Homo sapiens: one gene and its partners. The protein of the gene in region 2 purifies or fractionates together with the protein of the main gene of each other region. This does not show direct contact. Each region holds a gene or a part of one and is shown on either strand. Other genes may lie near its edges.

What was found. Proteins that work in one complex are often made in the same cells at the same time.
Region 1: the proteins of PCOLCE2 (region 2) and SERPINA12 purify together in Homo sapiens (affinity purification with mass spectrometry; one large-scale study listed by BioGRID and IntAct). This does not show direct contact.
Region 3: the proteins of PCOLCE2 (region 2) and STRN purify together in Homo sapiens (affinity purification with mass spectrometry, with the first as the bait; one large-scale study listed by BioGRID). This does not show direct contact.

The regions. Positions count from the first base shown.
Region 1 is NC_000014.9:94,499,470-94,502,969, forward strand, and holds part of SERPINA12 (serpin A12 precursor), read right to left. Parts: intron 1-3,500. UniProt on the Homo sapiens protein: Adipokine that modulates insulin action by specifically inhibiting its target protease KLK7 in white adipose tissues.
Region 2 is NC_000003.12:142,885,365-142,891,102, forward strand, and holds the start of PCOLCE2 (procollagen C-endopeptidase enhancer 2 precursor), read right to left. Parts: upstream 3,720-5,738; 5' UTR 3,533-3,719; coding exon 3,450-3,532; intron 3,096-3,449; exon of another isoform or gene 2,900-3,095; intron 2,414-2,899; coding exon 2,305-2,413; intron 1-2,304. UniProt on the Homo sapiens protein: Binds to the C-terminal propeptide of types I and II procollagens and may enhance the cleavage of that propeptide by BMP1.
Region 3 is NC_000002.12:36,851,537-36,855,036, reverse strand, and holds part of STRN (striatin), read left to right. Parts: intron 1-3,500. UniProt on the Homo sapiens protein: Calmodulin-binding scaffolding protein which is the center of the striatin-interacting phosphatase and kinase (STRIPAK) complexes.

The DNA of each region.
Region 1 (3,500 bases), on a different chromosome or scaffold from region 2:
CTCTGGTTGGACATACTACTGTCAGTGATGGTCACACCCATTTATATGTAAAACGAAGGCAGATTTCTTTGCTTGGTCATCTGTTATATCATTTAGTCTGCTTTCTTCCTGTAATTTATATCTTACATGTCTGTAATCTGTGGGTAATAGTCAGCCTGTCCACAGTAAAGGTTTTTCATGGTTGTCTTAGATTGGGTTCCCTAGAAGCAGAACCTGAGATGGGGATTTAGGTGCATGTTATGTATTGAGGCAGTTGTCTTCCCTGTAGGGAAGTGAGGGAAGTGGGATGGAAAAGGGAAGGAGCCAAGGTGACATCTAGCCTTGGCCTGGTCCACAGTGGGAGGGCTCTCCAGGCTGGCCTTTTGGATAGAATCGGTCAGTTGGTGGCTGTGATCTGTCCTCTGGATGCAGGTCATGGTGCATAACTGGGTCAGTTAGGTCTTATCAGCCAAGGACAATTTTCTGGAGAGGGGAGGGCAGTTGTGAGCTGTCAGCAGGCAACCCTCACAGCAGCACCAGCAAAAGGGAACTGGGTCAGCCACCAACGGGGTCTGCACAGCTAAACTCCCATGCCTGGCTCTTTCTGGTTGGCTGAATAAGCAGATGAATGAACACCAGGCAGGGCCTGTACCTAGGAGTGTCCCCAGTTCCCAGGTTCTTCATGTCCAAATCCTTCTACGCCAAGCACTGTGGATAGAGCCTTGATCACAACAAAGGTCTTCAAGGAGTTTGTAGTATAGTATTGGAAAATTCTAGTGAATACTGCTCATTGCTCCTTCAGCATCCATTCTCCCAGCTTCCCAATAGATCCTCTTCTTCTTTCTTCTCCTCTTCCCCTCCTCGCCTTCTTCTCCTCTTATCCTCTTCTCCTCATCTTCTCTTTCTTTTTCTTCTTTTCAATAATATACTCTTCTCTCAGGCAGCCCATGTGCCTCAGGGACACAAGCCCCTCCCAGCTCCAAGGGAGGGCCTGATTGGTGCAGGGGCATCTCAACTCTCCTGCTACTGGTTGGTTCAGGAGCCAGACCTAATCCAATCAGTGCAGGCGGGAATTTCTGCCCTGATCCTTGTTTAGGGAGGGGCATGTGGCTTAAGGGGTGCAATGAGGGAGGATTTCAAGACTGTTTGTTGGAATGTTGGGGTGCTGGCCTGTCTCTTTCCTGGGATGTCCTGGGCAGGAAGGCACGGCAGGCAGGGACTAACAGCAACTTTGCCCCGTGAGGGAAGTGACTCTAAGACAAAGCCATAGCACAAAGAGGATGCATCCAAGGGCTCTTAAGAGAAACCGGGGCTGGGTCCATGGAAAAAGCTGAACCCAGAGCCCACCTTGCCTCTGGACCCCCAGTGACGTTGAGTTACATGGTCACTTCCTTGAAGCCAAAAACATCCTCACAAATACGGGCAGATACATATTTTTTAAAACGCCAGGACTACTAAGTAGGCAGGAGTTCTGTGCTCTGCTCTCATGCCTTCGTAGCTGTGTGACATTCCAGAAAGCACTTCCCTCTCTGAACCTGGGTGCTCTCTAAGCACCTTCTACCCCCAAAAACCACTTCTTGGTAAAACTTAATAACAGCTGGTGATGAACAAGGGCTCTATGGGCTGCTGAAAACAGATTGTAGAAGAGAAATTAGTAAAATTCCCAAGAATGCTTCAGATAAACAAAAGAAAATAGGAAGGAGTCCATTTCAGGGTTTAGGGGGCTGCACTGTTTACAAAGGCTGCCTGGATTAAAAATAGAAGCTTCTGCTATTCAGAGTGGGCGCAAGTTCCCAGTGCCTAGGAGTGGAGAAGTTAAGACATGTCCCTTGAGCTGAGAAAACATTCTCAGCAGCGGTGAAACCAGCAGCCTGGCAGGAGCCTTGGAGGAGGCCGGGCAGGGCAGGGCTGGAGCAGGGAAGGAACCCACAGAAAGCACCATCCTGGGAACACTCTGTGGCACGCACAGCTTTACAGTGATGTTCAGTCACTGATCCCTAAACATTGTCAAGTTTCAGAAACAAGAACGGATTATGGAATTCCAGGTCTGGATAGCGGTCCTCCCCAACTTGTGTGTTTGTTAGGTGTTTTGATGCAAGTCTCTTCACCCTTCAGGCTTTCAGTATCTTCATCTATTAAATGAGGGGGAGGTGGTGATAATTTGGTTTCTTCCCCCATGAGATACTGCTGATCAGGTGGCACTGCCACCACCTCCCCGCCCCCCCACCCCCGCCCCAAGGGACACAGCCCACACCCTGGCCTGGTGGGGTCTCAGCACCCTCCCACCTCAGCATGCCTGTGTCACAGCAGTCTCCACCGGGCCTCCTGCCCTGGCTCCCTGAGTGCGAACATCTGGCCTTTCTCCCCCAAACAGCCAACACCAGCCCCATTCCGGGCCTTTCCATCTGTCATCACGGGCTTTAAACTGACCCAAATTTGTCAGTTGGGTTAGATGCCTGAGTAGGCTAATTTTTTAATTCCATCAATTAAAATAGCTGAGCAACTGGTTATTTCCCAATCAATTGATAGGTTGCTCTCCTGAGTTGAGCAATTGTTTGTTGGCTTTTAGTTTGGAATGTGTGTGTGTGTGTGTGTGTGTGTGTGTATCTGTGTGTGTTTGGCTGTGACTCAAAATAAATAAAGAGATAAAACTAAAACAAAACCAAGAAAAAAAAAAGAACAAGATAGAAACCGAACCCCATGGGGTACACATGGGACACATGAAGCTATAGTCAGTATTTCAATTCTCTGATCATCCTGCTCCCATGTTCCCTATTAATTTGGAAAAATAATTTCCTCCTCTTATGACTAGATAAAATAGTGCCTCACTGACCCGGAAGTCATTCATCCTAAAGACAGATCCAAACCAGATGGGAAGCGTCCGCACAGGTAGCATAGGCGGCTTAAGTCTACACGAGAAGGGGTTTCCCTGTGGGAGGGCACTGCTTCCACCTCCCACACCGTCCCGATCAGCCAACTGAAGCAACAGTGAGCTGTGACAGCAGACTCAACAATAATAATATTTCTAATTTTACAAAGCGCTTCCCCCGTTATCACCACAGTTTGAAGAAATGATACCTAAACAGGGATAACACACACAGGCTACAGAAGGTCTACTCAGTGCACAGTGGTTTGGAACCACAGTTTTCTTTAGAGAGAACTCCCCCTGCCCCCAGGCAGGTCACTCCTCTCCTGATAGTTGACCACCCTACCTCTCTTCCCTGGGATGAAACTGACTGGCTAGAAAGAGTTGATGTAATATCCTTCCTCAAGCCAATGAGACCAAAAAGTTTAGAATGCTTTGGACAAGTTCCCATGTCTTGAGAACCAACAGAGCGAGCTTCAGGCAACCAGTGTGTTGCCTCCTCATCGGGGAGATGCTTCCTACACTTGGCTGCATGCACCAGACACCCCTTCCTGCCCCAGAAACCCCTTCCTGCCCCAGGAACCCCAGGCCCTCTGAGATGCCACCTTTCCTCAGAACCTTTTCTGAGCGCCTCTTGGAATGTGCAGCACTTGGG
Region 2 (5,738 bases):
TGTGATATTTTAATAAAAGTGATACTGAATCACTCAATGGGAACACTATTCTTGGTTTACTGACTGCAGGAACAGAAAAATGGGCTGGACCAACCAGCGTGGGAAAAACCTTTAATAGATGGCCTTGGACAAGGCCATAGTAGAGCACAGTCCTGTCTGGAATGGCTAAGCAGGGAGACAGAGCCTGGTGCATGTATCCTTCTAGCTGGTGCCACTATATCCTAACCGCAGGCAGAGCTGCTGAGAAAACACTGTGGGCAGAAGACTCCGCATTTCTTCATCTTCTCTGCTACCACCTTGTCTACTCCACCATCTTCCCTCTCCTGGATACCACAACAGCTTCCTAATTGGTCTCTCTGCCTCTACTCTTAACTCCCTACAGTTCATCTTCCACGCAGACACCAGATAAGCTCATTCCTCTGCTTAAGATCTTCCAGTGACTCCTACTCAAAACAAAATTCAAACTCTCCACCGTGGCCTACAGAGTCCTGTTTACCTTCTTCGCTTCTCTTCCCACTGTCCCCTTGCTCATTCCATTCCAGCCACTCCAACCTCCTTAATTTGTTCTTCAGACAAATCAAGCTTCTTCCCACTCAGGCACTGAGTTGAAGCATTTTACACTATCTCATTTTGTCTTCACAGTAATCCTAAGGTTTAAAGGAGGTAGATCCTGGACACACAGTTTATGGCGGTGAAACTGGAATTTGAATCCAGGGAAGTGACTGCTGAGCTCACAGGCTTTCCCTTCACAGGACATCCAGATGGAGCATCCATTTAACTTCCCCACTCCCACACAGGAAATCATGCCTCTCCTGAGGCAAACCGTTCCTTTATCAAGGAAAGCTTTCACTGGACGTGCCCCCCAACCCCAGTCAAAGTGTAAAGTCACATCAACCTGTCCGCAATACTCAGAACACATGGCCAACCATGAATTTCTACTTGGGCACATGACGCCTCTGAGCCATTGATTTTCTAGGGTCGTTTAAAACTTATGGCCATTTAATTACATTTAAAACACAATCACGACATGAAAATCAAGCTGCTTTTATTTTTGTTTCAGAGACTTATTTGACATTTATGTTAATAGTATTTCAAACTTATTTTCTATGACTTCTTTCCTGGCCACATGTGCTATAATAACATAATGAAATCTGTACCAGTTTGTGACATGGTTGGCATTTTACAAGAGGCCGTCAAGGCATGTAAGAGCTGAGTTTTATATTATGGAAGGGGACCTCTCATATCTGCCTGCAAAATGACCTCAGTGGGAATACCTTATTGCAAAGTAGGTTTTACTTTTACATAAAGTTGGGCTTCCCGACTGTCTGATCAAGTCAATTTCTATAATTGTTTCAGGCCTCAGCTTCCCCATCTATAAAATAGGGATGATAATAGATACTTTCTCATACAGTTGTTTTGAGGATTCTGGGTGATTATACTTGCTAACTACTTGGCATGGTAAATGCCTGGCACACAGTAACTGCTAGTTTACACATTCAGTGGGGGCTACTTTTTAAAAAATCTAAGTCCTCCAGTGGCACAATCTGACTGAAAGAAGCTCTCAGTGAACCAACGTATTCAATTACTAAACAACTTCCCAACAACGAAAAAGTGAAGAAGGTAACAGTCAATGCTATGCTGACTGGAAAGATGACTCACTCTAGTTGACTCTAAATCAGTTAAAAAATATATGGCTGTCTCTAAATCCAGCTTATCTTGACTCAGCATAATCTATGTTATTACTAATCAGCATGGACTTTTTATTGGCCCTTGGCTGCTATTTAGATTCCCACCCCCCCATTCTCTATTCTTAGACTGCCTTTAGAGGTGGTTTCAACCCAGGAACATTAAGTGGGCTTTTTTTATTTTTTTTCTTTTTCCTTTCCTAATGAGCATAGAGTAGTCAAAGCACTATCTTTGATCTTCCATTTCCCACTGGGAATTTATGAAGGCACGAGCAACAAAAAACTTATGAAGGTCATTACAACAGGCCTTTGACTGAAAACAGCTTTAATTATGAATCTATAAAACTCAACTGAGTCACACTGGGCTTTCAGAAACACATCTGCTCTGAGAATTTATTCCTTCAAGCATTATCTTGTGCCCTTTGTAATCACTAATGCAGGACACGACTAGATCTATTATATTAATAAAAATCTTCCCAATAGTTGGGGTAAATCCAACATTTCACTATTTCAGGCATTTGCCTCTTACTCAAATCCTAACACCAGAGGAAAAAGGCAGCAGCCTCACACTGTTGCCAACACCCACTTCCAGGAGAATACCTTTTTAAAAAATGCTTACTGTGATTTTCCAAGTACATTTGCTATTTGGAGGGTACACTCCAGGAAAACCTTCACTGCCAATAAATCCAGACTCTCCAGTAAGAATGCCACCACATGTGAAAACAGGTCTGGGAACATAAAAGAAGAAAAGATAATGTAATTTGAAACATGGTCTAACAATCTGATGTTACCTTCAGAAAGGTGTAGCCTATTAATATAAATAAAAGTTAATGTTGATTAATCAATGCTTGCACCATATAAGGGATCTGAAAATTTGCTAGCTCCTAGAATATTTAAATTATAGCCTGACAAAGCATTCAGTCCAGCGCCATCTGTCTCCATCATAATAACACAAGATTATATATATGTATAATCAAGTCCTCGGCATTGTGGCAAAGTCTTGTAGGAAAATGGTAAATACATCAATTTAACTGGGGGAGTGGGAGAGAAGGTAAGAGCCAGGCTGAATGAGAAGCATGGTTTTAAAGAAAGACAGGCAAGCAATTGGTTAATATAAAAAAAGTTTGTCGTTCCCATATTTGGAGAGATGCCCAGTTCTCCTCCCCCTTTCTGAAAATCACTCGCCATTGGCAGAGCTTCCCATCGAAAGGGAGGCTGATGTTGATGGAGGCTGAAGAGGTGATGCCAAAGTTGGCCACCGGGCAGGTCCCACAGCCCAGCTCCTGGGGCCTTCCAGAGGTTGGCGAAGAGTTAACTTTCCGGAGCGGCTCCCTAGGCGCCGCGCCGCTAGGGTTGTTCCCTAGTTTACGTCTCTGGGCAAAGCCTCTCGGGGAAGGAAAAAAAACAGCGGTAAACCAAAATCCACATATTTGGGCCCCAGTGCTTCCCTCTGGCCCCATAGACACGAGGAGAGGGGAGACACAAGTCAGATTAAGCCCCGCCACGTGGTGGCCAAGCCAGCTGCAGGGCCATCCGGCAGGCCGGGCTGGGGACCCAGGAGGGAGCCCCGCGAGCAAGGATGGGTCCCGAAGTCCCGGGCTTAGCCTACCCGAGGGTGGCGGACGCCTGCACCGCGCGGGAGCGCAGGGTCGAGCGCTGGGTCACCCAGGCGCGCCGAAGCGGGTTGAGTAAAGCAGCAGGCGAGGCTGCAGGGGTGGAGGAAGGGAAAGGAGAGAAAGGGAGCCCGGGCAGGGGTCGCGTTACCTCTCTGGGGACTGCTGCCGCGAGAGCTGGGTGGCGGCAGCCAGCAGCAGGCAGAGTGGCGCCCAGGCGTTCGCGCCCCTCATGGCAGCGTAGACGCTCGGGGTTTGCACCCCACGGCGCGCGCGCCGGCACACACGCCCCTCCGCACCCACCGCGCTCACACCGCCGCTCACACTGGCAGCAGCGCTGGCTCACACCGGCGCTCGGCTGCCCGCGCGCTCCCTCTCACGCGCGCACCGCCGCGGGGCGGCCCAGGTAGCCGGGGGATACGCGGCCGGCAGGGCGGAGGCACTTTTAAAGGCGATTATGGTGCCGTCTGACTCGACGCTTAGTTTCCCCTGAGGAGCTGCTCTGGCAGCCACAGGCCACTGCTGAATATCCCGTTTGTTCTCCGGCGGCAGGAGGGGCGGCTCCGAGGCCAGAGCCGCCCCCTCTCGTGGGGCGGGCGAACGTCTCCTCCCGGCACCCCGGGACCGACGGGTCCTCTCTCGTCCAGCCCTCAGGGACCCCGGGGAGAAGAGGAACCCCTTGCGGAGTGGCACCCCAGCGGCCCGGGCCCCGACGCCCAGAGACGATTCTCAGGGAGGGCTTCTGGTTTTGCTTTGGGGAATGTTTTTCCCAGTTGCTTTTAAATAAAAAGTAATAGCGCTTGCTGGCTGCTGGAAAGCCTGGGGGTCCTTCTTTGTCTCCTTCAAAACCCAGATCCAAGGAAAGAAAGGGAAAAGGGATTTTATTGTATTTTAACTTCTGTGCTTATTCTCCTCTCTCTCTCTCTAGATACTTTTCTTTTTTTTACTGGTATGACAATGACAAGGAAGACAGTCTCTGTGCCGGGATTTAAACACGGGTTTTCAGGCGAGCGATTTCTGTGTGAACTGTCATTAAATGTCAGATAATGAAGACGGAACCAAATCAGCAAATCTCACCATCCCATGTCATGTTCTGAAAATGGTGTTTCTCTGCTTGCATCTCTCTGTTCTTAGACCTTTCCAACAGCATCTTTCTGTGGTATTAACGGGTTAAAATTTACGGAGAATTCGTTTTTCTTAGACGAACAATTCTAGCCTTGTGGAATCAATACTCTCTTTTACTTAATTACAGAAATATAATTTTAAACATTTATTTTGTTAAGAGCTTCCCAATAACCAGGGATTAATAAAAGAATGACAGGAACAGACTAGATTCATAGAGATTTTTAATAATCACCAGCTATGGGAGATACAGCTTAACTTTGATGCCTCACGTTGTTCCTTCTAAATTGTTTTCACCTTTCTAAGCAAGAAAATTAAGTATTAAAGTAGTTCTTATCGAGACTTTATTTCTAATAATGAGCTGTTAAGAATCTAAACACGGGTGGGCGCGATGGCCCACGCCTGTAATCCCAGCACTTTTGGAGGCCGAGGCGGGCGGATCACGAGGTCAGGAGTTCGAAACCAGTCTGGCCAAGATGGTGAAACCCCGCCTCGACTAAAAATACAAAAAATTAGCCAGGTGTTGCGGTGTGCGTCTGTAATCCCGGGTACTCGGGAAGCTGAGGCAGAAGTATCGCGTGAACCCGGGAGGCGGAGGTTGCAGTGAGCCGAGATCACGCCATTGCACTCCAGCCCCGGGCGACAGAGTGAGACTCCATCTCAAAAAAGAAAAAAAAAAAAAAAAGAACCTAAACACTCCTGGCAAGGAAGTAAGTAAAACTGGCTACAGGAAATATTCTGACTTTTCATAGTGAGTGCACCCTGAAGCCTATACTAGGAACCAGAATATACGGACAGGACTTAGATTATCTTACCATTTTTTTAAAAAGTGAAGGCAAAAACATCATAAAGTACAACTTTCAAAACTTCTCTACAGGCACCACACCCTTTATGACATTAAAAAAAAGGGTGACAGAATTTGGCAAACTGCTTTATATCCTGAAACACTCTCAACCCAATAAAAATGTCTTTAAAACAGGGAAGAGGAGAATAAATGGTTGTTGATTTTGCACGCATTTCAAGAATATGCTATCTAATAGCATAAGTGTTTTTAGATAATTGTTTATTTGAAAGTCATAGTTTTAAATTATAAAGGGAAATATTGCTCAATTCACTTTCTGGTAATGATTTGCAGTCCTCGTAAACCAGAAAATACTTCATTCAGGACTAAGCTAAGTTTTCAAAATTTAAAATAAATAACAAAGTATTAAATGTGCCTAAATAGGAAACTATTTGAACTAAAATACACAGCCATTTCTTAATTTATAGATTGATGACTGTGTTCATATGCTCACTAAAGAGTTAGGATTTTAACACC
Region 3 (3,500 bases), on a different chromosome or scaffold from region 2:
TTTATGTACATTTATAACTATACTGTTTGAAATAGCATTTGAGCTGTTATGGGTCAAGTTTTATTTTATACTAAATGATTAATTTTCAATTCTATTTGAAGAAAGCCATATTTATTCTGAATAGGAAATTCTATTTTTCATTTCTCGTAATTTCATATTTTAAATCAACTTAATTTTATATTAATAGTATGATTTGGTACAGCTCAATACAGATCATGTTGTGGCACTCAGAATTCCAAACCTGAAGCTTCTTATTGGATGCAGGAAGTCAGGAAATAAGTGCTTTTTCAGGTTATGAAGAAGATATTACAGACTCTTTTTTGGTTTTTGGCTTTCTTAACCATTGCTTTCTGTCGTTAGCCATAATCTAGACAATCACAGTTTAGGTTGCAGTTGATGAAGAATACGACATACATATACTCTTGTTTTAATCTGAGAACTAGCTTTAAAAGTGATGATATGTTGTGTGTGTGCACATGCATGTGTGAACATGTACATGCATATGTTTACATATGTTCTTGTGGTGTTCTCACTCTCTGTCTCTCTCTCTCTCAAAAAGTTTCTTTATTCCTTTGTGGTTTTCATCATTTTCCCTTCCTAACCTGTTGTTCATTGTTTTCTTCTGATATGCTGAGACTTGTTTGGGGAAGTAAGCATGAATAGAACTTTGAGCTACTTGGATGTAAACGAGAGAGACAGGAAAATAAATTAAACTCAGGTGATAGAATTGGAAAAGGAGAATTTTTTTCAGCAAGAAATTACAGGTTTTAGACTCTCAATAAATTTAAAATCATGTTTAAATATATGACTCAAAGCTACAGTAGCAAAATAAAAAACTAATATGAAATTAGAAAGGATGAGAACATTTTTGTAATTACCTTCAGAGATTATATGGCCAATTTGTGAACATCCTGAGTGGAAATAGTGCTTTTTAATGACTGCAGGTTAATAAGATGTCAAGTCTGGTAGATAAGATGGATAAAGAGAACTAGGCGAGTGAATCCACATTTTCCCCCAAGAGATGTGACTCTAAATTAATAGGACTTTTTACTTGACACTGGAAACATTTTGAGAAAACTTCCAAGAATGTTTTTAACAAAGGCAACATTACTGGAATAAATGATCATTATTTTGAGTTGTAATATGTCCTGACATTTTCTAAATTATGTTTTTTACTTTTAAAGTTGTATAAAGAAAACTTAAATTAGTCTCTTATTATGTTTTACTGTGAACTACCCCTTGTTATTTATAATTGATTGTGTTGTTCTGTTTTGGAATTTAGCATATTTTTTTAAAAAAATGAAAGGACCAAACAAGCTTCAAGGAGAAAGTGAGTTTTATATAGAGTTTAAAGTGATGAAGGATGTTTGTTAGAATAGGAATAAATTACCCTTCTTCTCATTGATGTCAATGGCGATTTGACTGTGGTAAAGTCAAAGGTAGTTGAAGCAGATACGTCACAAGCTAGGTATGAGTAGTGTTCTTTGCATTCTGCCGACTTCTCTGATTTATCATCAAGTGGAGAAGCTTCCTTAAAAGTGTTACCAAATAAGAACTTTCTTTTGCCTGTTTCCATGATTTGATTTCAATCATATTTATTTTCTAGCTCTCAAAGCAATTGAGGCTATTCTCTGAAACGTCTCTCTCAGAATATATGGGATATTTCACTTAAAGTATTTCTTTTTTTGTTGTTACTGTTATTCTCTTGCTGGACTTTACCACGGGTGTTGCTCAATGGAGTATTATCTGTGGAGGAAATAATGCGTAGTCTGAATTTTATAAATAAACATCTCTTTGTTTAGGATCTAAACCAGGTGTAACTGACTAAGAACTTACTCCACATGGTCAAGTGAGTTTTTGTTTTATATTTATTTTTTTTTGAGACAGAGTCTCGCTCTGTTGCCCAGGCTGGAGTGCAGTGGTGCGATCTCAGCTTACTGCAACCTCCACCTCCTGGGCTCAAGCGATTCTCCTGCCTCAGCCTCCCAAGTAGCTGGGACCACAGGCGTGTGCCACCATATCTGGTTCATTTTTGTATTTTGCGTAGAGACAGAGTTTCACCATGTTGGCCAGGCTGGTCTCGAACTCCTGACCTCAAGTGATCCGCCTGCCTCGGCCTCCTAAAGTGCTGCGATTACAGGTGTGAGCTACCGTGCCCAGCCACATTTTATATTTAAATAACAGGCTGGGTAATTACCTGCCACTAGCATTGGGAAAAGACTGTCTTCAGTTTTTAAGATGTTATATTTCTAGGAGCCACATGAAAATCCTGTAAGATTAGACTATTTTTAGCTGTATTTTCTATTATGTGAATATAAACTTGTAATACCTATTCTAGGGTTCAAAAAATTTTTTAAACTCTATTTTGAAATAATTTTAAACTTGCAGAAAAGGTACAAAAATAGTACGAGAACTTCTGGCTACCCTTCACACATATTTAGCAGTTTTTAACATTTTGTCACATTTGCTTTTTCACTCTATATATGTGTATAATTTTTAATTCTGAACCATATGAGAGACGTCATGCTCCTATTCCCCTAGATCCTTTAGCGTGTAATTCTAAGATCAAGGGCATTCTCTGATGTAGTGTATTACAATGATCAAAATCCGGAAACTTAACATTGACACAATACTATTATCTGAATTACTATTTATATTCAAATTTTGAGAGTTGTTCCAGTAATATATTTTACAAGGACACCCCTTCCTCTCCCTGGACCATAATTTAATTTTTAAAACTTTGACATACCTTCAATTAGTGTTTTCTTTATGTCAGTTTTTCTTTTCTCTTAAAAAAAGCTTAACAGAAATCACTGAGGTTTTAAATTACTGATTTCTTTTTAATAAAAGCCTTTCAGGAAGAATGTGTGATCATTTAGGAACCAATTTTGACAGTTGTGTGATCTGCATGAACCATCAGGTTGGGAGAGAGTCAGAAGTTAGAATAGGTACTGATTTTGTCACCTGATTGTGGAGGAGTCACAACTTTTTCTGAACCTTGATGTGTTCACTGTAATATAGGCTTAATGATATGTGCTTGCCTGTCTCATTGTGTGTATAATTGAAGTTTCTTTGGAACTTACTAACACAAAAAATACAGTTAGGATGCTGACTTTTAGGATTCCAAACCTAGTTCTGTCAAATGACCATTTCTATTATGATGAGGAAGAGTGATAAAGGGATTTAAGGATTAAGAAGCCCTCTTTGTCATATATATCTTTAGATGATAATGATGTGATACAGAACTTTGTATGCAAAAAGAGCTGAGATTTAAATTTGAGAATTATCTCCATGTAAGTGATGATAGAACTTACTTAAAGTAGCAAAATCTCACAGAACATTGTAGAATGAACAGCGTTAGTGGCTCTAGACTAAGCCATAGATGGCACCCACATATAGCAGGAAATTGTAATTTATAAATATTTCCAGATTTATCAGGCAATTCTCTTTCCTAACATTGAAATTTTGAAAACAGTCACAGAATAAATGAACTAAAGACA